Homo sapiens: one gene and its partners. The protein of the gene in region 1 interacts with the protein of each later gene in a biochemical or structural test. Each region holds a gene or a part of one and is shown in the gene's direction. Other genes may lie near its edges.

What was found.
Region 2: of the proteins of BIRC2 (region 1) and MAD1L1, one has a biochemical effect on the other in vitro, tested with the Homo sapiens proteins (one study listed by BioGRID).
Region 3: of the proteins of BIRC2 (region 1) and CSE1L, one has a biochemical effect on the other in vitro, tested with the Homo sapiens proteins (one study listed by BioGRID).
Region 4: the proteins of BIRC2 (region 1) and GLMN form a complex in vitro, tested with the Homo sapiens proteins (one study listed by BioGRID).

The regions. Positions count from the first base shown.
Region 1 is NC_000011.10:102,371,201-102,378,229, forward strand, and holds part of BIRC2 (baculoviral IAP repeat-containing protein 2), read left to right. Parts: intron 1-6,295; coding exon 6,296-6,550; intron 6,551-6,656; coding exon 6,657-6,698; intron 6,699-6,789; coding exon 6,790-6,983; 3' UTR 6,984-7,029. UniProt on the Homo sapiens protein: Multi-functional protein which regulates not only caspases and apoptosis, but also modulates inflammatory signaling and immunity, mitogenic kinase signaling, and cell proliferation, as well as cell invasion and metastasis.
Region 2 is NC_000007.14:2,222,932-2,229,960, reverse strand, and holds part of MAD1L1 (mitotic spindle assembly checkpoint protein MAD1), read left to right. Parts: intron 1-4,410; coding exon 4,411-4,551; intron 4,552-7,029. UniProt on the Homo sapiens protein: Component of the spindle-assembly checkpoint that prevents the onset of anaphase until all chromosomes are properly aligned at the metaphase plate.
Region 3 is NC_000020.11:49,091,301-49,097,467, forward strand, and holds the end of CSE1L (exportin-2), read left to right. Parts: intron 1-745; coding exon 746-827; intron 828-2,839; coding exon 2,840-2,986; intron 2,987-3,431; coding exon 3,432-3,663; intron 3,664-4,875; coding exon of another isoform or gene 4,876-4,887; exon of another isoform or gene 4,888-5,048; coding exon 5,049-5,138; 3' UTR 5,139-5,649; downstream 5,650-6,167. UniProt on the Homo sapiens protein: Export receptor for importin-alpha. Mediates importin-alpha re-export from the nucleus to the cytoplasm after import substrates (cargos) have been released into the nucleoplasm.
Region 4 is NC_000001.11:92,288,978-92,296,006, reverse strand, and holds part of GLMN (glomulin), read left to right. Parts: intron 1-4,469; coding exon 4,470-4,589; intron 4,590-5,676; exon of another isoform or gene 5,677-5,700; coding exon 5,701-5,809; intron 5,810-6,855; coding exon 6,856-7,029.

The DNA.
Region 1 (7,029 bases):
ATGTTGAATAGGAGTGGTGAGAGAGGGCATCCCTGTCTTGTGCCCGTTTTCAAAGGGAATGCTTCCAGTTTTTGCCCATTCAGTATGATATTGGCTGTGGGTTTGTCATAGATAGCTCTTATTATTTTGAAATAGGTCCCATCAATACCTAATTTATTGAGAGTTTTTAGCATGAAGGGTTGTTGAATTTTGTCAAAGGCTTTTTCTGCATCTATTGAGATAATCATGTGGTTTTTGTCTTTGGCTCTGTTTATATGCTGGATTACATTTATTGATTTGCGTATATTGAACCAGCCTTGCATCCCAGGGATGAAGCCCACTTGATCATGGTGGATAAGCTTTTTGATATGCTGCTGGATTCGTTTTGCCAGTATTTTATTGAGGATTTTTGCATCAATGTTCATCAAGGATATTGGTCTAAAATTCTCTTTTTTTGTTGTGTCTCTGCCCGGCTTTGGTATCAGAATGATGCTGGCCTCATAAAATGAGTTAGGGAGGATTCCCTCTTTTTCTATTGATTGGAATAGTTTCAGAAGGAATGGTACCAGTTCCTCCTTGTACCTCTGGTAGAATTCCGCTGTGAATCCATCTGGTCCTGGACTCTTTTTGGTTGGTAAGCTATTGATTATTGCCACAATTTCAGATCCTGTTATTGGTCTATTCAGAGATTCAGCTTCTTCCTGGTTTAGTCTTGGGAGAGTGTATGTGTTGAGGAATTTATCCATTTCTTCTAGATTTTCTAGTTTATTTGTGTAGAGGTGTTTGTAGTATTCTCTGATGGTAGTTTGTATTTCTGTGGGATCAGTGGTGATATCCCCTTTATCATTTTTTATTGCGTCTATTTGATTCTTCTCTCTTTTCTTCTTTATTAGTCTTGCTAGCGGTCTATCTATTTTGTTGATCTTTTCAAAAAACCAGCTCCCGGATTCATTGATTTTTTGAAGGGTTTTTTTGTGTCTCTATTTCCTTCAGTTCTGCTCTGATCTTAGTTATTTCCTGCCTTCTGCTAGCTTTTGAATGTGTTTGCTCTTGCTTCTCTAGTTCTTTTAATTGTGATATTAGGGTGTCAATTTTAGATCTTTCCTGCTTTCTCTTGAGGGCATTTAATGCTATAAATTTCCCTCTACACACTGCTTTGAATGTGTCCCAGAGATTCTGGTATGTTGTGTGTTTGTTCTCATTGGTTTCAAAGAACATCTTTATTTCTGCCTTCATTTCGTTATGTACCCAGTAGTCATTCAGGAGCAGGTTGTTCAGTGTCCATGTAGTTGAGTGATTTTGAGTGTTTCTTAATCCTGAGTTCTAGTTTGATTGCACTGTGGTCTGAGAGATAGTTTGTTATAATTTCTGTTCTTTTACATTTGCTGAGGAGAGCTTTACTTCCAACTATGTGGTCAATTTTGGAATAGGTGTGGTGTGGTGCTGAAAAAAATGTATATTCTGTTGATTTGGGGTGGAGAGTTCTGTAGATGTCTATTAGGTCCACTTGGTGCAGAGCTGAGTTCAATTCCTGGGTATCCTTGTTGACTTTCTGTCTCGTTGATCTGTCTAATGTTGACAGTGGGGTGTTAAAGTCTCCCATTATTAATGTGTGGGAGTCTAAGTCTCTTTGTAGGTCACTCAGGACTTGCTTTATGAATCTGGGTGCTCCTGTATTGGGTGCATATATATTTAGGATAGTTAGCTCTTCTTGTTGAATTGATCCCTTTACCATTATGTAATGGCCTTCTTTGTCTCTTTTGATCTTTGTTGGTTTAAAGTCCGTTTTATCAGAGACTAGGATTGCAACCCCTGCCTCTTTTTGTTTTCCATTTGCTTGGTAGATCTTCCTCCATCCTTTTATTTTGAGCCTATGTGTGTCTCTGCACGTGAGATGGGTTTCCTGAATACAGCACACTGATGGGTCTTGACTCTTTATCCAATTTGCCAGTCTGTGTCTTTTAATTGGAGCATTTAGTCCATTTACATTTAAAGTTAATATTGTCATGTGTGAATTTGATCCTGTCATTATGATGTTAGCTGGTGATTTTGCTCGTTAGTTGATGCAGTTTCTTCCTAGTCTCAATGGTCTTTACATTTTGGCATGATTTTGCAGCTGCTGGTACCGGTTGTTCCTTTCCATGTTTAGTGCTTCCTTCCGGAGCTCTTTTAGGGCAGGCCTGGTGGTGACAAAATCTCTCACCATTTGCTTGTCTGTGAAGTATTTTATTTCTCCTTCACTTATGAAGCTTAGTTTGGCTGGATATGAAATTCTGGGTTGAAAATTCTTTTCTTTAAGAATGTTGAATATTGGCCCCCACTCTCTTCTGGCTTGTAGGGTTTCTGCCGAGAGATCCGTTGTTAGTCTGATGGGCTTCCCTTTGAGGGTAACCCGACCTTTCTCTCTGGCTGCCCTTAACATTTTTTCCTTCATTTCAACTTTGGTGAATCTGACAATTATGTGTCTTGGAGTTGCTCTTCTCGAGGAGTATCTTTGTGGCGTTCTCTATATTTCCTGAATCTGAACGTTGGCCTGCCTTGCTAGATTGGGGAAGTTCTCCTGGATAATATCCTGCAGAGTGTTTTCCAACTTGGTTCCAATCTCCCCATCACTTTCAGGTACACCAATCAGACGTAGATTTGGTCTTTTCACATAATCCCATATTTCTTGGAGGCTTTGCTCATTTCTTTTTATTCTTTTTTCTCTAAACTTCCCTTCTCGCTTCATTTCATTCATTTCATCTTCCATTGCTGATACCCTTTCTTCCAGTTGATCGCATCGGCTCCTGAGGCTTCTGCATTCTTCACGTAGTTCTCGAGCCTTGGTTTTCAGCTCCATCAGCTCCTTTAAGCACTTCTCTGTATTGGTTATTCTAGTTATACATTCTTCTAAATTTTTTTCAAAGTTTTCAACTTCTTTGCCTTTGGTTTGAATGTCCTCCTGTAGCTCAGAGTAATTTGATCGTCTGAAGCCTTCTTCTCTCAGCTCATCAAAGTCATTCTCCATCCAGCTTTGTTCCGTTGCTGGTGAGGAACTGCGTTCCTTTGGAAGAGGAGAGGCGCTCTGCGTTTTAGAGTTTCCAGCTTTTCTGTTCTGTTTTTCCCCCATCTTTGTGGTTTTATCTATTTTTGGTCTTTGATGATGGTGATGTACAGATGGGTTTTCGGTGTGGATGTCCTTTCTGTTTGTTAGTTTTCCTTCTAACAGACAGGACCCTCAGCTGCAGGTCTGTTGGAATACCCTGCCGTGTGAGGTGTCAGTGTGCCCCTGCTGGGGGGTGCCTCCCAGTTAGGCTGCTCGGGGGTCAGGGGTCAGGGACCCACTTGAGGAGGCAGTCTGCCGGTTCTCAGATCTCCAGCTGCGTGCTGGGAGAACCACTGCTCTCTTCAAAGCTGTCAGACAGGGACACTTAAGTCTGCAGAGGTTACTGCTGTCTTTTTGTTTGTCTGTGCCCTGCCCCCAGAGGTGGAGCCTACAGAGGCAGGCAGGCCTCCTTGAGCTGTGGTGGGCTCCACCCAGTTCGAGTTCCTGGCTGCTTTGTTTACCTAATCAAGCCTGGGCAATGGCGGGCGCCCCTCCCCCAGCCTCGCTGCTGCCTTGCAGTTTGATCTCAGACTGCTGTGCTAGCAATCAGCGAGACTCCGTGGGCGTAGGACCCTCCGAGCCAGGTGTGGGATATAATCTCTTGGTTCGCCGTTTTTTAAGCCAGTCTGAAAAGCGCAATATTCGGGTGGGAGTGACCCGATTTTCCAGGTGCGTCCGTTACCCCTTTCTTTGACTCGGAAAGGGAACTCCTTGACCCCTTGGGCTTCCCAAGTGTGGCAATGCCTTGCCCTGCTTCGGTTTGCACACGGTGCGCGCACCCACTGGCCTGCGCCCACTGTCTGGCACTCCCTAGTGAGATGAACCCGGTACCTCAGATGGAAATGCAGAAATCACCCGTCTTGTGCGTCGCTCACGCTGGGAGCTGTACACCGGAGCTGTTCCTATTCGGCCATCTTGGCTCCTCCCCTCCTTCAATAAATATTTGTTGAGCATGAGCACCAGTGCCAAATACTGTGCCTAATCACAGTGGTTGCTGTCAAGGAGTATATACACTAGCTGGCGAGACTAGTGTGCAAAAGACAGGGTTAAAGGGCCAGCAGAGAGGCGAAGGTTGCATATGTATTGGAGTATTGCGTTGGAAGATGCTTTCTTTTTAAGCTTGTAAGTAAAGACAGGAATAACTTAAGAGTACCTTATTGCATGACCGTGTAGCAAAATATTTAAAGTCTGGACTTCTACATTGAAACAGATTTGTGTTTAAATTCTAGCTCCAGGCTGGGCGCGGTGGCTCATGCCTGTAATCCCAGCACTTTGGGAGGCCAAGACGGGCGGATCACAAGGTCAGGAAATTGAGACCATCCTGGCTAACACGATGAAACCCCGTCTTGACTAAAAATACAAAAAATTAGCCGGGCATGGTGGCGGATGCCTGTAGTCCCAGCTATTCGGGAGGCTGAGGCAGGAGAATGGCGTGAACCCGGGAGGCAGAGCTTGCAGTGAGCCGAGATCGTGCCCCTGCACTCCAGCCTGGGTGACAGAGCCAGACTCCATCTCAAAAAAAAAAAAAAAAAAATTCCAGTTCTATCAGTTACTAGCTTGGCTATTTATTCAACCAGACATCGGCTTTCTCATCTGTAAAATGGGGATAATAATAGTATGACTCCCATAGGGTTGCTGTAGGAATTAAATGAGATATTGCAAATAAAACACTTTAACACAGCTCCTAGCACGTCAATTTTTTTTTTTTTTTAAGCATTAGGTAGATTGACTTGGGAAGTGGGAGGGACTTGGTGAAAGAAAGGGCCTAAGAAAAGTCAATTTAAGGATTGTTAAGTAGTAATGAAATCCAGCTAAGGTTATATGAAATCACTGTCACCTTAGATTTATGACTTTCTCATACTTTGTATGGGTTGGAAAATAGTATTGAATTACAGATTTGGCAGTGTTAATAGGGGAAAGGGCAAGTAAGGAATACGGAAGATGAGTTAAGGGTGCTAATATAGAGAACTTCATTGAAATACCTGACTGCTACCTAGATTAGAATAGGAGGTTTGAAGCAAAGCCAGGAGATAGCTCTTGTGCAAGTAGAATTGGGAATGACATGGAGATCTTGAAAAGGTGAAGAACAAATTGGTTAGCAGTGAGAGGAATTATTTAGGTAGAAGAAAAAGTTGTCACAGAATGGAATTTTATAGTTTTGAGATTAATAGAGCAGTTCACTTCTAGAGAGATGTAAAAGGGGAAAGAAGATAGGCTTCTGTTTTTATAATTTATTTCTCATTAAACTGGTACTTTGTAGAGATGTACTTTTTAAATTTTTTTGAAAGTCTGAAAATAGACAAATTTTATAATGATTCAGATACCAAAAGAAGGAACTACCATATTCCATAAATATAAATTAACTGTGGAGTTTTATGTGATGCGATATTAAAGGAAAAACATTGGCTTTTTAAAAAAAGGTCAGGCTTGATTCTTAGGTAGTTTTTTTTAATTGCTATAAACATAGACATTTATAAAATAATAATGGTAGTTAACTATGTACCACATATTGTGCCAGATGCTTTACATGTATTATTCAATCCTTACAACTTTGAGGAAGGTACCGTTATGTATATTTTACAGATGAGGAAACTGAGGTGTATGGGGAAGGATGAGGACACATAGCTAGTGAGTGGGCCTAGCCAACACTGGAACCTAGGTCTGTTTTGACTTGGCAACTCAAACCCTACAATACTACAATACCACGTCTTAAGTATGGGGTGTTGAAAAGAACACTGGTCTAGGATGCCTGGTTCTGCAGCTTATTCTTTCTTGTGATCTTAGGCCACTCATTCTTTTCTGAGTCTTTTTTCTCCCTATGTAAAAATGAGAGGCAGTAATACTCGCCTTGTTTAATTGACAGGATCACTGTATCAAATGAGACAAATTACTATGAAAGTGCTTACAAAAGTAAAATGATATAATGGAAATACAAGAGTATTATTATATATGGTGGGGGGAAATTTTTACTGTCTTCTACAAATCTCTTGCAACAAAATAAAGTAAAAGCGGAGTTCTAGGACATGTAAATATATAGACTTAAAAATTAAACAGAGACTTCCTCTGGAAGTTTTCCAAACAACAAACTTACAAATGCAAACAAGTTACTTTGTTCTTTTTTGAACTTTATTTAGTGCCTAAATTGTTTGTAGGGTTGGTTATTAGTGACTATATGAGTATAGTTAAAGGAGTTTAAAATCTAATGGATTTCTTTTTCTTTTTTTAATGAAGATGATTTGTCATTAATTCGGAAGAACAGAATGGCTCTCTTTCAACAATTGACATGTGTGCTTCCTATCCTGGATAATCTTTTAAAGGCCAATGTAATTAATAAACAGGAACATGATATTATTAAACAAAAAACACAGATACCTTTACAAGCGAGAGAACTGATTGATACCATTTTGGTTAAAGGAAATGCTGCGGCCAACATCTTCAAAAACTGTCTAAAAGAAATTGACTCTACATTGTATAAGAACTTATTTGGTGAGTTTGTTGGGAAAATTATTTTAGAAATTCTTAGGACTGGCCAGATGCGGTGGCTCAGTTTTGTATTTAGTAGAGTAATGGTTTTTATGTTTTCTTTCCTCAGTGGATAAGAATATGAAGTATATTCCAACAGAAGATGTTTCAGGTAAAACAAAGATTTAAAACCAACATGAACTATTACCCTTTTTTTTTAATGAAGTGGAAACAATTTCACTAAAGTTATTTTTTGTTATTAGGTCTGTCACTGGAAGAACAATTGAGGAGGTTGCAAGAAGAACGAACTTGTAAAGTGTGTATGGACAAAGAAGTTTCTGTTGTATTTATTCCTTGTGGTCATCTGGTAGTATGCCAGGAATGTGCCCCTTCTCTAAGAAAATGCCCTATTTGCAGGGGTATAATCAAGGGTACTGTTCGTACATTTCTCTCTTAAAGAAAAATAGTCTATATTTTAACCTGCATAAAAAGGTCTTTAAAAT
Region 2 (7,029 bases), on another chromosome or scaffold:
GAGTCTGCTCTGGGGAGACCCTGGGCCCGGGCAGGACCTCTTCCAGTCTTCTGTAGTTGAGGTGGGTCGGTATTAGCAGAGCCTAGAGACAGCTATTCGTCTCCCAGGTCTCACTATGGGCACTCCTCATTTTGGGGTCGTAGCTGGAGGCTAGTTGGGGCCCTGAGCCATCCTGGCTTAAAGGCCTGCCTTGTTAGCGCCCTGAGTGGGCCTGGCGCTCAGCATTGCGTTCACACAAGTGCACTCACAGACCCTGGTGACAGGATCGGAAAGCCAGTTCATTCATCTAATTGAGGACAGAACCCAAACTGCCTGGGGGAGTGAGCACCAGGACTGTCGGGAAGGCTGTGTTGGAAACACAGTGCTGAGAGTGCCTGGGCAGCCCAGAGACAAAGCCACAGCAGTGAGCAGAAGGACTGGGTGTTTTGTGGTCTCAGACTGTGGAGGGCCATTTACAGATTTTGGGGTGATTTTTACAGTTTTCTTCTATAAAATAGTTGTATTTTGTTTCATTACAAGTTCTTGGGGTTTCTCACTGTAGACACAACTGCAGAGGATTCAGGCCTCCTGAAGGACTTCAGGCTCCAAAGAGTGATGAGCCCAGTCCCAGTTGGGGCTGCGATAATGGGGCCCCCAAGTTGTAGGGAGTGGTGGGGAGTGGAGTGCTGGCTAGTAGTGTCTCCAGCCTTGCCTGGGCCCTGTGGCTGCGCAGGCTCCTCTAGGCTCCTCTGCCTGGACCCTCTTTCCCAGTCCCTGCTGCGGTCCCCAGAGCCGTTCTGTAGTTCTGTCCGCATTAGAGGAGGCTCTGGCTTCCTGCGCTCTCAGAGCCCAGATGAGGCCCTGCTGCATTTGGTTAAACTGTGTGTGCGTGTGCATTTGTTTTGTTGCATAATTGAATTAATGTGTGTTTATTAGAATGCTAGCTTGTGGCCAGATGTGGTGGCTCAGGCCTGTAATCCCAGCACTTTGGGAGGCTGAGGTGGGCGGATCATGAGGTCAGGAGATCAAGATCATCCTGGCTAACACGGTGAAACCCTGTCTCTACTAAAAATACAAAAAATTAGCTGGGCGTGGCACCTGTAGTCCCAGCTACTCGGGAGGCTGGAGCAGGAGAATGGTGTGAACCCGGGAGTCAGAGCTTGCAGTGAGCTGAGATTGCGCCACCGCACTCCAGCCTGGGTGACAGAGTGAGACCCTGTCTCAAAAAAAAAAAAAGAATGCTAGTTGCTAGCTTGCTCACTGCCCTTTCTTGATGAGGACTGTTTTTTATTCTGAGATTAGGTCATATATATATATATGTGTGTGTGTATATATATAATATTTATGTAAATGTTCTTTTGTGAAATTATGAAGGTAATAGATGGTAGTTGTTTTTTATCACTGACAAAATGAGAAGTGGCCAACTCTGAGCTGGTTGCAGTGGCTCATGCCTATAACCCCAGCACTTTGGGAGGCTGAGGTGGCTGGATCACTTGAGGTCAGGAATTTGAGACCAGCCTGACCAACATGGTAAGACCTCATCTCTACTAAAAATACAAAAATTAGGCGGGTGTGGGCACCTGTAATCCCACCTACTCGGGAGGCTGAGGCAGGAGAATCGCTTGAACCTGGGAGGCGGAGGTTGCAGTGAGCCATCGCGCCACTGCACTCCAGCCCGGGTGACAGAGTTGGCAACTCTGGTCTGAAATGCTGTGATTTTAGTGTTGCGAATGTCTGGGACCTCTTGGCCTGTCTGTCAAAGCTGTGGGATTCTAGAGTCTGTCTTGGGGCTCGGAGGCCCCCAGTGCTCACTGGTAAAGGCCTCTCGGTGAGGGGATCAGTGATGGAGTGCGGTAGTCAGAGCAAGGTGGTGAGCGGAGTGATGGCGGCAAGACCAGCCTTGGTCCCTGGCCCCTGTCACATCCCATTCCTGGACTTCGTCGTGGTTCTCTCTCTCCTGCTGAGCCCCCGGCGTGGCAGGGAGGGCCTGGAGAACATGGCAGGCCGGGGGAATGTGTGCTGTCTGGTTTCTCACACATCGTGTTGATTTAACGTAAGGGTAAACTTTCAGGGTTCCTTTCTTTCCGTTGTAGTCAGCTCCAGGCAGAGGTGGCACACGGATCAGGTGTGTCTGGGACTCCTGGTCCCTGCCGGTCGTGCCCCCTGCAGGCGGGGTGCCCACCCTTCTCGAGAGGCTCAGGCTTGACTGCAGACACAGAAGTGAGACCAGGAAGGCTGCTGAGTTTGAAGGGCAGTCTTAGGAACGCCCAAACAGCAGCAGCTGAGAATCGAGACACAGTAACATAGGAGTAAAGGAAGTGTGGGCTTGGGCCACCAGAGAACACAGGTGGGAGGACAGAGAAACTTCCCTCCCCTGTCCCAGGCTTTCCTGGCCTTGGCACGCTTGGCATTTGGGCTGGGTAATTCTTTTTTCTCAGGACTTTCTTGTGCATTGTGGGCTGTTTAACAACTTCCCTGGCCTCTACCCCCTGGACGCCAGCCAGCAGCAGACACATGTGACCACCCCCCTGTGACAATCAGGTGTCTCCAGACAGGGCCAGATGTTCCCAGGGGCAAAACTGGACCCCACTGGGAACCACCACTCTACTCTGGTGCTTCTCAACCTTTCATGTGCATGTGAACGCCCTGAGAATGTGTCTAAAAAGAAGTTTCTTTTTTTCTTTTGGAGATAGGGTCTTACTCTGTCATCCAGGCTGGAGTGCAGTGGTACAATGTTGGCTCACTGCAGCCTCCGTCTCCTGGGTTCAAGTGATTCTCCCTCCTCAGCCTCCCGAGTAGCTGAGATTACAGGTGCGTTACCACCACACTCGGCTAATTTTCATAGTTTTGAGTAGAGACAGGGTTTCACCATGTTGGCCAGGCTGGTCTCAAACTCCTGACCTCAAGTTATGTACCCACCTTGGCCCCCCGAACTGCTGGGATTACAGACGTGAGCCACCACGCCTGGCCTAGATTCTTTTGTTTTTTTTTTTTTGAGACGAACTCTTGCCCTGTCATCCAGGCTGGAATGCAGTGGTGTGATCTTGGCTCACTGCAACCTTCGCCTCCTGGGTTCAAGCGATTCTCCTGCCTCAGCCTGAGTAGCTGGGGTTACAGGTGCGTACCACCACGACCAGCTAATTTTTGTATTTTTAGTAGAGACGGGGTTTCCCCATGTTGGCCAGGCTGGTCTTGAACTCCTGGCCTCAAGTGATCCACCCGCCTTGGCCTCTCAAAGTACTGGGATTACAGGTGTGAGCCACCACACCCAACCTAAAGAGAAGATTCTGACTGAGTAGGTCTGGGGTGTAGTCTGCGACTCTGCATTTGTTAAGTGCCGGGAGATGCTGCACTGCAAGGCTCTGGGCCACGTGAAGAGTCAGTGACTCTGCCTTTTCCTCCAGCTGAGCAGGTCGTACCCAAAGGCCGGCTCTGGAACTATTTGGCAAGTCTTCTGGGGCTCTTTGAGGCTCAGCTAACCTGTAATCACTAGCCCTGTGTGGTAGGCAGACTTCTGAGAGGGCCCCCAGGAGCTCAGCTCACCTGTAATCACTAGTCCTGTGTGGCAGGCAGACTTCTGAGAGGGCCCCCAGAGGCTCAGCTCACCTGTAATCACTAACCCTGTGTGGTAGGCAGGCTTCTGAGAGGGCCCCCAGATTCCAGGCTCCTTGTGCACACTCACCTTCCTACTGCCTCCCAGGTTTCAGTCCAATACTGAGTAGGTTTCATTGCTGTGGGATTGTGCAGATGTAATTAAGGTCTAAGATCTGTTGACCTTGAGATAGGGAGATTACGTGGGTGGGCTTGATCCACTCCCTGGTGGGCTTGATGTACTCACCTGAGCCCTTTAAGTCTGAGTCCAGACGTCCGAGGCCGAGCAGTCAAGAGACATAGCAGGAGAGGGATTTGATGAGGGAGATTGGACGTGGTTGACTTTGGAGATGGAGAGGGCCGTGTGGCAAGGGATGTGGGCAGCACCTAGGAGTTGATGGCTGTACTGGGCTGGCAGCCAGTCGGGAAGGAGACCTCATTCTCCATCTCTGAGCTCCACGTGAGAACATGTCCTGGCCGACTGCATTGATTTTTAGTCTGGGAGACCCTGGTCAGAGAATGCAGCCACCTACGTCTGGACTTCCGACCCACGGAGCCGTTGGCTGGTAAATAAATGGGTGGCATTCGAGGCCGTTGCCTTCACTAATATGCTTAATGTCATCTCAAAAGACGTCTTCCTCTTCCCAGGCTTTTTCACCTTCCCGTTTCCTGCCCCTCCCCTGTTCCCCAGCCTGGAGCCCAGTGGCTGGGCCACATCAAGACTTAGCACGGGACCTGCGGGAATGGGTCCTCAGGGAGTGTGTCTGCTGCACTGAGTCACTCACCTGGTTTGATGCCGTCACTGAGGATTCTGTTTTTCTTTGGGTGCGACCTGCTCAGCTGGAGGAAAGAGCAGAGCAGATCCGTTCGAAGTCCCACCTCATCCAGGTGGAGCGGGAGAAAATGCAGATGGAGCTGAGTCACAAGAGGGCTCGAGTGGAGCTGGAGAGAGCAGCCAGCACCAGTGCCAGGAACTACGAGGTGGGTTCAGGCGGGGCGAGGGTCGGCCCAGACAGCCCCAGGAAGCAAGGGGGCTGTGCACGGTACCTGCCAGGTTATAAGAAATCACATCCTAGTCCCTGGGAGCAAGGGGGCTGTGCATGGTACCTGCCAGGTCTTAAGAAATCAGATCCCAGTCCCTGGGAGCAAGGGGGCTGTGCACGGTACCTGCCAGGCCGTAGGAAATGAGAACCCAGCTGGCTGGAAGCCTGACACGCCCTGTGTCATGGTTGCCAGGACATTCCTTCTGAGGCCACTCATGCTGTGGGGCAGGTATCAGTTATGCTTGATGTCCTAGAGGAGGGTGGCATGAAATGGGAACACTTGCTGTGTCTGTTCATTGAGGCTGCGGTGCTGGCACAGATTCTTTTGCTGGGTCTCCTGGTTTCCTCTTCCCTCTGGAAGAATTGGAATGCAGGTCTGGCAGAAATGCCAAGTGGTGTAGGAGTGACAGGCTTAGGAGGTCATGGGGTGGATCAGGGTCTCGGGTCCATGCTGGGTCTTGGGGTTGGAGGGCCCTAGCAAAGGGTGCCGGTCTCAATGGCGGCTCTGTGTTGCTCCTGGCTCCCCAGGGCAGCAGGGAAAACACCCTGTCCTTGGGGAGGGAATTAGGTTTCCACTGAGTGCGCGGATCCCCTCTGCTCTGATTAACAGCACTTTGCCAGGGTTTCAGTCAGTGCTGATCAGTTGTGGAAATGCTGCCAAGGTTCAGGCAGAGTATTGGGCGGAAAGTCTCCCTGGCCTCCGTGCCCTCTCTTGGCGGGTGGATGTCCAGCCCCGCCCTGACATCATGCGGTGTATTCACACACTCTCCTGGGCCCTAGAAAAATAGCTCACGTCTTCCGGGGTGTGATGCTGGTTGGATTGCTTGCCCCTGGCCTGCAGATCCTGACTGCGGTGTGCGTTGTGTGGGCTCAGTGAGACTGAGGCACCGCTGGGGTGGGGGCCACTGCCTCAGGGTTGGCTCCGTTGCTGCTTTGAGAGCTGTTTTCCCTGAGAGGTGGGGCGTTTGCTCATGGCCTGGGTGGGTCCTAGGAGGGACAGTACTGGAGGAATTGGTGGGAAGGGGAGGGAGAGTCCACAGGAGTCTCCCTAACTACTGAGATTCCCTTGTTAGGGGTGGAGAGGAGCCACCAGGTCATTGGTCTGGAGGCAGCATGCTGATGGTATGGCTGTGGCTGTCAGGCAGGAGGGACAGTGTGCAGCTGTTGGAGTTCCTCTAGGCCGAGAGTCCCTGAGGGCAGGGCCCACCCGACTCTGCCCAGGATCTCCATTGTGTGGCACAGCTTATGGCATTTTATGGGTGCTCACAAATGTTGGATTGAGGGAGGGGTCATTGTAGGGTCTCCGGGAACCCTGTCTTGGGGAAATCCAAGGATGCAGGTGACTGGGCTTACACCTGGGGCTCCCTGCTGAGCTCCAGCCACCTTCTAACAGGACTGTCCTTCCTTGCCCGCAGACACAGCTGCATGGGACCCCAGGAACAGTCAGAACCAGTAGTTTTCCAATTGTTCCTTGGAGTTCCACCTGGAAATACCTATTAGGGGCGAGACTTAAGTGTCTGAAGTCCAAAGACCTGCTGGCTGCCCTGTCTGCGCTGGGACTGGCAGTTCCAGGCCCGGTGCCGCATCTGGCTGTGATGGTGCTGAGCGGAGCCCCGTGCCAACCCCAGTTCTTGTCCTGCATCACAGAAGGGTCTCTTGGTTGTTGTGAGGCAGCCCTTGCAGCTCACAAGGGCTGGAGTCCCTCCGAGGTGCGCGGGTCAGCCTCTCTCAGAAGGCGGCCACCTCTGTCACAGCTCTCCTGGGTTTTGGGCTGGAGTACCCTGGATGAGGACAGCACAAGCTCGTACTCCACCCGGGGCTCCGGGAGTGCTTGGTGCTTCCCGAGGAAGGCAGGGTGAGAGGGTCCCGGAGTGCCGGGCTCCACCAGGACTCACCGCCTTCACCTCCTGGGACGCCGGTACCTGGCAGTGAACTCTGGAGGGCCTGCGGGTCATTAGAGTCAGGAGGTCTGAGCGTGGTGCTTGGTCATGTCCCATCCCAACCAGTGAGAGCCACGCGGCCTCCCTAAGGCCAGTCGTGGGGGGTGGGTCTGGAGGTTTGTGGTTTGTGTGAGAGGGGGTGCATGTGTGGCAGATTTGAGCCCAGTGTAAACTGCTTCTGCCCACAGCCTCCTGTCCACGCTGCCTGTCTCTGCCCCTGTTGTCTGCTCGCTGGGGGAGTGCCAGCTCCTTTCAGTGCCGGACAGAGCGTAATTAGACAGGATTTGCTGGTGCTATGAAAGCTCAGCTTCTCCCCAAGGTCAATGCTGAATTTTAGATTTCCCATGCCCCCTCTCCCTGCAGAGGCAACTGCTGAGCAGACGGTGTGATAAATGTGTGTGTGATCTGTGCCAAGTGCCCTTCCTGGGAGCCCTGACCTCGCACAGTGCTCACCGTCATGGTGCCACAGCGGGGGT
Region 3 (6,167 bases), on another chromosome or scaffold:
TGTAGTCGCAGCTGCTTGGGAGGCTGAAGTAGGAGCATCACCTAAGTCCCAGAGGTTGAGGCTGCAGTGAGCCAAGATTACACCCACTGCACTCCATCCTAGGTGACAGAGTGAGACCCTGTCTCAAAAAAAAAAAAGAAAATATTGTAAGGGCCTGGTGCAGTGGCTCTCATCTGTAATCCCAGCACTTTGGGAGGTGAAAGTGGGAGTATTCCTTGAGTCCAGGAGTTAACGACCAGCCTGGGCAACATGGTAAGACCCTGTCTCTACAAAACAGCCAAGCATGGTGGTGTGTGCCTGTAGCCCCAGCTACTCAGGAGGCTGAGGTGGGAGGATCACTTGACCCTGGGAAGTTAAGGCTGCGTGAGCTGTGATCACGCTCCTGCACCCAGCCTAGGTGATAGAGTGAAACCTTCTCACAAGAAAAAAGAAAATATTTTAAGATGTTTGTGTTCTCCAAACATTAAGTTAGTGTTAGTCATATTGTGTTCCAGAGGTTGGTTTATGGTTGGATACCAAAACATTTTTTCAGTAGAGAGAATATTATAAGGAAATATAAATCAAAGAGAGACAGCATGTAAAGGTCTATGACAGAAAGACAAGTTTTCTATTTACTAGAAGGCAGGTATTGATGCCACAGCCTTTGGATGTTAATGATTAAGCATAGGTTTATTTTGCAGACTTATCAGTTACCAGTTTAGTGCGTGAGTTCTCTATGCTGATATTCTGCATCTTCTTTCAACAGGTTTTTTAGTCTTTATTAATTTGTATTGCATAAAATATGGGGCACTAGCACTACAAGAAATATTTGATGGTATACAACCAAAGTAAGTTTGTTTTTATTATTTTTTAAAGGAAGAAAATGTTTTGACTTTTTTTTTAGTACAAATCAGTATCTCTGTCTTATAGATGATGATGTGGTTCTTGGTATGGAGATAGTGTCTATGGTTTTCAAAATATTCTTAGGTATTGGGAGTAAAGAAAAAGTAATCCTGGCCCAGCATGGTGGCTCACGCCCGTAATCCCACACTCTGAGAGGCTGAGGAGGGCGGATTTAGCTCAGGAGTTTGAGACCAGCCTGGGCAATATAGTGAGACTCCATCTCAAAAAAAGAAAAAACACCCTGGAATCATTGTTCTAATCCTCTAGATTAGAGGACCATCTACTCTACACACTGGCATTCTCCACAGCCAGTGTTCTATATTATGTTAAATGGTCAGTGTTGTCTCCAGGAGCCTGCCTTATTAAAACTAACAGCAGAAAACACCACATGTTCTCACTCATAGGTGGGAATTGAACAATGAGAACACTTGGACACAGGGCGGGGAACATCACACTCTGGGGCCTGTCGTGGGATGGGGGGCAGGGGAAGGGAGGGCAGAGGGAGGGATAGCATTAGCAGAAATACCTAATGTAAATGACGAGTTAATGGGTGCAGTAAACCAACTTGGCACATGTATACATATGTAACAAACCTGCACGTTGTGCACATGTACCCTAGAACTTAAAGTATAATTAAAAAAAAAAACCAGAATTTTCCTTCCCCCTTTTTTAAAAAATCGTGCTAATCCATATCGTTCCAATTTTAGTATATGTGCTGCTAATGCAAACACAGCAGAATTTTTCAAATGAGAAATACTTAGGACCAATAAATTAACTTTGTTTTTGACTTATCTGGTATATATGCAAAGAATGTATTTAGGTGGCATTTCCCATTAGTAGGGAATAAAACAATTATAACGATAAGATAAAGAACAACTCTTAGGGAAAATTTCTTCGGGGACAGTTAGATCCCTGTACCTCAGTTATGTCTCAAAAATTCTACATTGACTAAAAAATGAATTACTCTGGAAAGGAGACCAGAAAACATGGCTTCCGGCAGTAGGGGATTTTGAGGAAATCTCATGCACTGCTAGTGGGAGCCTGAATTAGCCTGATCTTTCTAGAGAGCAAAATGTATGCACTTTTTATCCAGAGCATTAGAATTGCCATACCCTTTGAGCCATATTTCCACTTCAAAGAATTGGTTCTATTAACGCATAAACTGAGGATTTTGCATCATTTAGAATTACGGAAAACTTCACTTCTAGCATGTTTGCAACAACATAGAATGATTGGCCGAATTATTTTAAATAGCCATTAGCATTTATGTACCTGCAGGTATGTAAGCAAAGACAGTTGGGAAGCTTATAACCCAAAAATGTTAAAACTAGTTGTTTCTGGGTGGTGGGATGATTCCTTTTTTCCCTCCTTGCTCCTCTCTCTTTTTTTTTTTTTTTTCTTTTTTTTTTTTGAGACTGGCCAGGTGTAATTTTTAAAGAAAAAAGCAGAGAGGGCCAGGAATGGTGGCTCACGCCTGTAATCCTAGCACTTTGGGAGGCTGAGGCAGGTGGATCACCTGAGGTCAGGAGTTCGAGATCAGCCTGGCCAACACAATGAAACCCCATCTCTACTAAAAATACAAAAATTTGCCGGGCGTGGTGGTGGGCACCTGTAATCCCACCTACTCAGGGGGCTGAGGCAGGCAAATTGCTTGAACCCAGGAGGTGGAGGTTGTAGTGAGCTGAGATCACACCGTTCCACTCCAGCCTGGGCAACAAGAGCGAAACTCCGTCTCAAAAAAAAAAAGAAAAGAAAAAGATTATGGCATTTGGCTACAGGGTAGAGGTGTGATGGGGTTTTTTTATGTTTTGACTTTCAGTCTCTTCAGATGATCAAAAACAGCAGTCTTGTTATTTAGTAATTTATCATATTCATAAGAAGTAACTAACATCTAAGCATTTTACTATTTCATTATAGTGATAATCTAATATTAAGTTGATTTATTTTGCTTTAATAGAATGTTTGGAATGGTTTTGGAAAAAATTATTATTCCTGAAATTCAGAAGGTATCTGGAAATGTAGAGAAAAAGATCTGTGCGGTTGGCATAACCAAATTACTAACAGAATGTCCCCCAATGATGGACACTGAGTATACCAAACTGTGGTAAGTACTTCATTTTAATATTTTTGTAAGTTACAGCTTCCTTCCCATATGACTGCAAAATTAACAAAGCTTATTCTCTTGGGGGCCAAGAGAATCTTGGTCTGATCTCAGCTTCTCCACAATCAGATCCAAGACATGATTTCTGGATCCTTCTGGGCTTAGAATGATCTTGTTTCCTGCTTCTTTTTCAGGGGGATTCATGGACCCCTTTAAGAGTCTGATCTAGGTGATCTCTAAGACAATTTTATGACAGAAGCCCAACTAAACTGACTTATCTTTAAGGGGAAGAACTGAATAAGCCAAGAAAAGAACCATCTTAATTTCAAAGGTCCCCTTTTATTCTTGAGACTATGAGTCTGTAATTTTGTGTCTCTGAGCAATTGCTGGTTTTAAGTCTTCCGAGTATTTTCTTGACCTTTTTATCTCTTGCTTTCTTCCAATCCAGGACTCCATTATTACAGTCTTTGATTGGTCTTTTTGAGTTACCCGAAGATGATACCATTCCTGATGAGGAACATTTTATTGACATAGAAGATACACCAGGATATCAGACTGCCTTCTCACAGTTGGCATTTGCTGGGAAAAAAGAGCATGATCCTGTAGGTCAAATGGTGAATAACCCCAAAATTCACCTGGCACAGTCACTTCACAAGTTGTCTACCGCCTGTCCAGGAAGGGTAAGTGTGTTGTCAAAGAACTCTGTGATAAATGGAGACTTTAATGGGAGGGCAAAAGGATAGTAGTAGTTCTGGTGTCTGTTTTCATTGGTGGGCGTAATAAAACTAAATCTCATTGAGTTACAGCAAGCTTATTTTCTTTAATTAAAAACACTGAGCCCTTTTTTTCTTGTATTATGTACTACAAATATATTTTAAGTGAATGGATTTAGGAGTGAGAACAAAGGAGGAAAAATCCCTTCAATAGAAATGTAATAAGGCTGTATAGTTGCATTTTGTCAGCACTTTATAATAAGAGTTTATTTCCCAGATCGAAGTAATCCATCTATTATTAAAATGTGGTAGCATTTTTTTATTTTTATTTTTATTTATTTATTTTTTTAGACAGGGTCTCACTCTTATCCAGGCTGGAATGCAGTAGTACGATTATGGCTCACTGCAGCCTCAACCTCCCAGGTTCAAGTGATCCTACTGCCTGTCAGCCTTCCAAGTAGCTAGGACCCACTATGCCCAGCTAATTTTTTATTTTTTTGTGGAGACAGGGTCTCCCTATGTTGTTCAGGTTGGTCTCAACCTCCTGGGCTCAAGCCATCCTCCTCCCTCAGCCTCCCAAAGTGCTGGGATTACAAGTGTGAGCCTGGACACAGTTATTTTTTTTTAATTGCAGCATACTCAGAAATTAATAGATCATGGCATAAACCTAATAATGACTGTATAGTTGCATTTTGTCAGCACTTATTATAGAGTTCTTACATGTTACCTGATAAAATATATATTTTTCAAGCCAGACACAGTGGTTTATGCCTGTAGTTCTAGTGCTTTGGGAGGCCAGGGCTGCAGTGAGCTATTACAGTGCCACTGCAATCCAGCCTGGGCAACAGAGCGAGGTCCCGTTTCTTAAAAAACATATATGTGTGTGGCGTGTGTATATATATGTATATATATTTTTTCATTGTATTATTACGGAGACTTTCAAACATATATAGAAAGAGCATAATGAAGCCTGCATGTGCCCAGCTTCAATAATTACCAATATCTTGCCAGTTTTGTTTCGTTTCTCCTTTTATTCTCTGTATTGAGCAAGTCTTAGACATCATACGTTTCACGCGTAAGTACCTTATTCTACATCATTAACCAGTAAGGACTTTTTAATTAACCACAATACCACTATCACACCTAATAATAGTAATTCCTTATGGATCTTTTCTTTAGACCTATTTTTGAAGGCATAAAAGCAGTTGAGTTTCTGGAGAATTTTTGGATGGTGATTAATGACTTGACTGGCTGCTCTTCCCAGAGCTGTGGCAGCTCTCCCGTAGAAGATGGGGTTTGTATTGGCGCACCAAGATCTCCAACAGCCAGTGTGTGTTTCCCATCTCTTGTAGGTTCCATCAATGGTGAGCACCAGCCTGAATGCAGAAGCGCTCCAGTATCTCCAAGGGTACCTTCAGGCAGCCAGTGTGACACTGCTTTAAACTGCATTTTTCTAATGGGCTAAACCCAGATGGTTTCCTAGGAAATCACAGGCTTCTGAGCACAGCTGCATTAAAACAAAGGAAGTTCTCCTTTTGAACTTGTCACGAATTCCATCTTGTAAAGGATATTAAATGTTGCTTTAACCTGAACCTTGAGCAAATTAGTTGGTTTGTGTGATCATACAGTTATGTGGGTGGCTTCTAGTTTGCAACTTCAAGGGACAAGTATTAATAGTTCAGTGTATGGCGTTGGTTTGTGTTGAGCGTTTGCACGGTTTGGATAATCTTAAATTTTGACGGACACTGTGGAGACTTTCTGTTACTAAATCCTTTTGTTTTGAAGCTGTTGCTATTTGTATTTCTCTTGTCCTTTATATTTTTTGTCTGTTTATTTACGCTTTTATTGGAAATGTGAATAAGTAAAGAATTACTTGTGTTACTTGCCAAGCAGTGCACATTTCATAGTTTCAAATCTGTAATCAGCAATAAAAATCCTAAAATATGTACCTAAGAACATCTTAAGGGCAGGTTTTCAGTGCTCTCTCATGCTTTTATAAAAATGAAGAATTTCTTTAAATTTCTTCCTTTTCCTTTCCTGGACTCTGTAAAATCCTAATTTCTAAATCATGTAAACTCAGATTATTTAGTCTTTTTTTTTATATGGGGGAAGGGGACATTAATATAGATTTGGGGCTTATTTACTAGAATTTTCTGTAGCAGTTCCTAGGTGGCAGTGTGAGTTTTGGGTAGGTGGCTCCTCTGGGAGAAATGCTCTGCCTCGCTTAATGGGATGGCGGTCGAGAGTACTTGAGACTGTGGATGTTTTGATCTCTTTCATCTCTGCTGTTCCCTGGAGAGTGGAGGTTACTTGGAACTTTTCAAACCCTGACACCTTAGAACCGTGAAGTCCAGTCCAGTGGTGGATCCGGCCGGATGCCTGGTGAGCTTGGTTGCACTGGCTCCCTCCCTTGGCCTGGCCCATGGAATTGTACAGCATTCGTTTCTGAGGAATGAAGAATCAGAATATCT
Region 4 (7,029 bases), on another chromosome or scaffold:
ATAACTTTGTAACCTCCAATATAATAAATCTTATGTTTTTTAAACTCTTCTTGATTTTTTTCTAATTGCGTTCTCAGGATAACCTTCTAAAGTACTTAGCTTTCAGCTAATAATAAAAAAATTAATAACAACTAATATTTATTGCATGTTTACATGTACCAGATGCTGTCTTTAGTCCTTTACATTTATTAACTTAATTAGTCTCTCCAAAATCTCAGAAGGTAGGTGTTCATTTTGTAACTGAAAAGTTAAATGACTTGCCCAAAAGTAAGTCAGCTTTTATGTAACATCCAAGATTCAGACCTGTGTAGCATGGTTTTGGAGCTCCTAACCACTCTGCTCTACCTCTGGTTAGTGCTGTATGGCGTATGGTTTTAGGGTAGAATACAGGGGATTGCTTGATTGAGAGGGAGAGGCATCAAAAATGACTGGGTTTCTAGCCTCTAAAAGGATAACATATGATATCAAACAGAAAAAGGCAACCTAAGTAGAGGGAAAAGTTTTCTGAAGGAACAAGTGAGTTGACTTTTAGAAATTTTGAGTTTAAGTACAGCAGTCAATTGGAAAATAAGGTTTTGAGCTCAGTAGAGATAGAGGAATTAAGATGTAGATCTCTGAGACACATATCTGTGAGACTTTAATTACCTAAAGATTGGGTAATTGAAGCATTGAGGAGTGAAAAAAAAAAACAAGAATTTACCTGAGTTCACATAAAAGGGGCAGAAGAGAAGAGGCCCAAGATCCCATCTTGAAGAATTTAAGAAACAGGTAGAGAGAAGAGGCCTGCCAAGGAGATGAGGATCAGCACCACATCAGTGAGGCAGAAGGAAAAGGGAAGTATAAACAAAGTATTTTTCAGGCATTGCATGCCTTAGCGTTTTATTTTTAGCATGCTTCTGAATAGCTAATGGGATAGATTTAAACATGTGAGGCTTAGTCTTAATAGTTTGAGAATCACCTTTGCAATATGTGGTCAGCTAAATGCAAAGGTTTAGATATTGATAAGACAATGTTCAAAACTGACTACAGGCTGGGCACAGTGGTTCATGCCTATAATCCCAGCACTTTGGGAGGCCGAGGCGGGTGGATCACCTAAGGTCAGGAGTTCGAGACCAGCCTGGCCAACATGGTGAAACCCTGTCTCCACTAAAAATGCAAAAATTAGCTGGGCGTGATGGTGCGCCCCTGTAATCCCAGCTACTCGGGAGACTGAGATGGGGGGATTGCTTGAACCCAGGAGGTGGAGGCTGCAGTGAGCCAAGATCGTACCACTGCACTCCAGCCTGGGAAACAGTGAGACCCCATCTCAACAACAACAACAACAAAAAACTGACTACAATTTAATTTTCTTGCCAGGTGACACTATCAAAATTGACCAAGATTTACTATTATCTTCACCTATAAGACTGAATTAAAGAAAAAAAATAAAAATAAAAAGATTTACTATTTACTGCTTTGTGAGAGACCATTCACATACTATTTATTACAGTATATTATAATTGTTGTAGTTATTGTTAATCTCATAAATTAAACTTTGTCACAGATATGCATGTATAGTATTTATATATAGTGTTTGGTACTATTCATGGTTTCAGGCATCCACTGGGGGTCCTGGAATGTACCCCCTGCAGATAAGTGGGGAGACTACTGTATCGTATACTCTATTTTTATTATCTTACAAGACTGGGGTCAAGATGAGGTATTATAGGTGTCATTTTGTCTTCTTCCTAGATCAGATTTTTTTTAAAAAAATTCTAATTTTTGTGGGTACATAGAAGGCATATATATTGATGGGTACATGAGATGTTTTGATATAGACATGCAATGTGTAATAAGAATATCATAGAGAATGGGGTATCCATCCCCTCAAGCATTTATCCTCTGTGTTACAAACAAACCAATTATACTCATTTACTTTAAAATGTACAATTAGTTATTGACTATAGTCACCCTGTTGTGCTATCAAATAGTAGGTCTTATTCATTACTTATAACTTTTTTTTTTTTTTTTGGTACCCATTAGCCATCTTCCCTGCCTCCCACTACCATTTTCAGCCTCTGGTAACCATCCTCCTACTCTCTACGTCCGTGAGTTCAGTTGTTTTGGTTTTCAGATCCCACAAAAAAGTGAGAACGTTCAATGTTTTTCTGTGCCTGACTTCTTTCACTTAACATAATGGTCTACAGTCCCATCCATGTTATTGCAAATGACAGGATGTCATTCATTTTTGTGGCCAAATAGTACTCCATTGTGTATGTGTACCACATTTTCTTTATCCATTCATCTGTTGATGGACACTTAGGTTGCTTCCATATCTGAGATATTGTAAATAGTGCTGCAATGAACATGGGAGTGCAAATATCTCTTCAATATAGTGATATCCTTTCTTTTGGGTATATACCCAGCAGTGGGATTGCTGGATCATATGGTAGCTCTATTTTTGTATTTTTTGAGGAACTGCCAAACTGTTCTCATTAATGGTTGTAGTAATTTACATTCCTACCAACAATATCTAAAAAAAAAAATACAAAAAATTAGCCGGGAGTGGTGGCGGGCACCTGTAGCCCCAGCTACTTGGGAGGCTGAGACAGGAGAATGACGTGAACCCAGGAGGTGGAGCTTGCAGTGAGCTGAGATCGCGACAATACATGTCGCGACAATATATGAGGGTTTCCTTTTCTCCACATCCTTGCCAGCATTTGTTATTGACTGTCTTTTGTATATAAGCCATTTTAACTGGGGTGAGATGATATCCCATTGTAGTTTTGATTTGCATTTCTCTGATGATAATGATGCGTACCTTTTCATATGCTTGTTTGCCATTTGTATGCCTTTTGGGAAATGTCTATTCAAATCTTTTGCCAATTTTTTAATCGGATTATTAGATTTTTTCCTTTAGTGTTGTTTGAGCTTCTTTTCTATTCTGGTTATTAATCTCTTGTCAGATGGGTTAGATCTGCTTTTTCATTATTTATATATTTTTTTGAGATAGGGTCTGTCTCTGTCACCCAGGCTGGTTTGCAGTGGTGTGATCACAACTCACTGCTACCTCGCCTCCCAGGCTCAAGCCATCCTCCCACTCATCCTCCCAAGTAGCTGGGGCTACAAGCGTGTGCCACCAGACCCAGCTAATTTTTGTATTTTATACACAGGGTTTGGCCGTGTTGCCCAGGCTGGTCTTGAACTCCTGAGCTCAAGTGATCCACCCACCTCAGCCTCCCAAAGTGTTGGGATTACAGGCATGAGCCACCATGCTTAAAAAAAAAAAAAAAAAGAAAAGAAAAGACGGGGTGCGGTGGCTCACGCCTGTAATCCCAGCACTTTGGGAGGCTGAGGTGGGCGGATCACGAGGTCAGGAGATCGAGACCATCCTGGCTAACATGGTGAAACCCCATCTCTACTAAAAAAAAAAAAAAAAAAGGCAAAAAATTAGCCAGGCATGGTGGCGGGTGCCTGTAGCCCCAGCTACTTGGGGGGCTGAGACAGGAGAATGACATGAACCCAGGAAGCAGAGCTTGCAGTGAGCTGGGACAGCGCCACTGCACTCCAGCCTGGGCGACAGAGCGAGACTCAGTTTCAAAATAAATAAATAAATAAGAATGTATTTAACTTTAAAAAACAGAGACAGGGTCTCACTAGGTTGCCCAGGCTGGTCTCAAACTCCTGGGCTCAAGTGATCCTCCTGCCTCAGCCTCCTAAGGTGCTGGGATTAGAGACATGAGCCACTGCACCCAGCCAACCACCGTGCTTTTAAAGAAGGACTCTAGGAGGGTAGTGATCTTATCCAGTGTGTTCCTCACTTTATTTCTAACCTCTAGAATATTATAGTGTAGGCTTGGTAAATACTGATGAGTTAAAATACAAAGCAGGCCAGAGAAGTGGAATACATTGTTGATCCTTTGAGAATTAGTGGTTTTGATAATGAATGTGAATTAGTCATTATAAAGATAAACTTTTACTTGTATGGTAAGCATTCTGAAATATCTTTGAACATAGAAGCCACTTGTATGTAGGAGAGAAAATTAATGAAGTTGTATCCCTTCTTTTTTTTATAAATTACAAGGATTATATTTAGAGACTCCAAGAACTTTAAAAGGTACATGAGCATTGGCTGGATTTCTTTATGAATAAGGGGAGCAAAATTGTCTGTGGAAGTTAAGTACCTGTATTAAGCAAATTAACTCTTTTGTTGGAAATAGAGGCACTATTTAAATCTTGGGAAACACCAACTTGCCTGATAAAAAGTAAAGACCCTTTTGCCTTTCCTCAGGGAACATATTAAAAACTATTTAAAAATGTTGATGTCTGTTAGTAGCCAACCCTGGAAAGTCTCTGGTGAAATGTCATAGGCTTCACTTGTCTCATCTTCCTATTTCAGAAACAATTCTGAGCTCTTCCAAGATAGGAAAGCACACTGCGAGAGTCCTATAGATGGCAGTGTTTGCTTTACTCTGAAAATGTTTTTACAGGTCATCATCAAGAATATGGGCTGGAATCTCGTTGGTCCTGTTGTTCGATGCCTTTTGTGTAAAGATAAAGAGGATAGTAAAAGAAAAGTTTATTTTTTGATCTTTGATTTATTGGTAAAGGTAAGTTAACAAAACAAGGTTCTCTTTATCATAACACACAGCAGTATTTTATAATTCCCTTTAATGTTTATTGTTTGGTAAGAAAGCTTTTGGTTCATGAAAGTACATGCAGAAAGGAACTCGTTGGAGAAAAGACCCAGTCTTATTGATTGGATAGGCAATTCCATTTCAGGATTTCCCAAATTTTCTGGATAAAAGAATTGTCTAACCTCATATTAACCTCATATCGGACCCATTGATTCAGCATCTCCAGGGAGAGACCTGGGAAGCTATATCTTAACAAGTAGCCTTATCGTATAGATGTGGAATACAAGCTTTAGAGAGGTAGTTCAAGGTCACATTTATCTTTTGGCAACATTGGAACTAGATTAAAATCTCAGTCCTCTTTCCTTTGTGGTATGTTCCCTAAAAGAAAATGGAAGGCCTAGAATACAAGTGATTAAAATTGAAGTAGGAATAGGGTAGAATACAGATCAGTTGTGACTAACAACCTTAGAAAGCGACCCTGGGTAAAAGGCTAGTAGAGTTTACAGTCAATATTTGATGGCCAAGAAAGATAAATTCTGAGAAAAAGTATATTATAAGAAACTGTTTAGTGATCAGTGCAAATATACCCAAATATATATTGGAAGGAGAGCTCCATCTGTATGAGTTATTGACTATGGGAGCTGGGAGCTTTTAAAAAACCAGTCAAGTGAGATGATAAGATATGGCCAGTCAGAAAGCAATGCAAAGTTTTACCTGTTCAAAAAATACAAAAGAGATTCCAGACTAGTCTAAATAGGCTTGCAGCATGGGATTGAAAGGTCCCACCTGCTGGAGCCCCTGAGAATCTGTTAAGGCAATTTCAGAGTGGACAGGTGAAGCTCAAAGGAAACCTGAGCCTAAAGATCCATTGACTTCTTGCTTTTTAGTTTTATAGTTACTTGACCATCACAGATTCTGTGTTTTGCTCATGCATATTTTTTCAACAATTGTATAAATAATTTTAATGTTAAGCAAAAACATAATTGTATAATATTTTGTCGATACATGCCTTCTTAAAAATAGTAATAATGTGGCTTTAAATACAACTTGTATTAAACAGGTTCAATTGTGAATATTTTTATAGTTATGCAATCCAAAGGAATTATTGTTGGGTTTGCTTGAACTGATTGAAGAGCCCTCTGGAAAACAGATATCCCAAAGTATTCTTCTTTTGCTTCAGCCATTACAAACAGGTAATGAGAATTTTGATATCAGAGTACTTCTTGTTGTATCTCTAAATGCCTTGATGGTTACCTCAAAATGTCAATACTACACCAAAGTAAAGTTTACAGCTAATTAGTGAGTACTCTGCTTAAACCAATAATAGCAATGCCAATGTGAATACTGCTGCTCATAGAAAGATTATAGTATCTGGCCAGAGTGGGTACCCAGTAAATATTCTGTTGAATGTCATACTATTTTTCATGTGCTATATTGAAAACTATACCTTTTTGCCTAACCTTCCTATCTGCTGCTTAAATCTAGAATTTTCTCTCTAAACATGTTTCAAGGGTTACCTCTGTGGTGTCTGCAGTACTAAATCTGATAGCATTATGGTAGTCTGGAAGAGTATCAGGCAAGGCATTGCTCAGCCTCTGCTTTGGGAGGTTGGATTGGGCATAGCAAAGCTACTACTGAAGAATGAAACGAGGAGATATGGGATGATAAGGCTCCATGGCTGAGTGCAGTAACAGTATTGGTAGGTAATGGGTCTTAGCAACCAAGGCAGACAGTATCCATAGGAAGAGGTTATTTTTCATTTTAGGAAATTCGTTTATCTCACAATCTGATAGAGGGACCTAGAATCAGAAATTAAATTTGTTTTAAATATGAATGCCTGCCAGCTTCATACTACCTGTAATATTCAGTCTTCTAGGGAAAAAAAATCTAATAATACCACCTCCTATTTGTGTAGTGCTTTATAGTTTACAATACACTTATATTTTGTGCTTATAACAACCCAAAAACATGGAAAGAACATGTTTCTGTCTTAAGTACATAGCCTGTTACACATAGTCTGTTATAAACATAACCTAAACAGCATTTCATGGCAAGATGCTGTATTATTTTATGCACAACTAAGAAGAAAAAAACACTGCCAATTAGACTGTGATGTGTCATCTTGATTCAAGAGTTGTTAAAATGTGGGAGGAGGAAGTGTCTTATAATTCCACATTTGCCGAATTTCTTGTCCCATGTTTAGCATACTTGATGAGCGACAACTTGATCTCTGTTTTAGTGATTCAGAAACTTCATAACAAGGCATATTCAATTGGATTAGCATTGTCTACCCTTTGGAATCAGCTATCTCTTCTTCCTGTTCCATACTCAAAAGAACAAATACAAATGGATGACTATGGCCTTTGTCAGTGTTGCAAGGCCTTAATAGAGTTCACTAAGCCTTTTGTGGAAG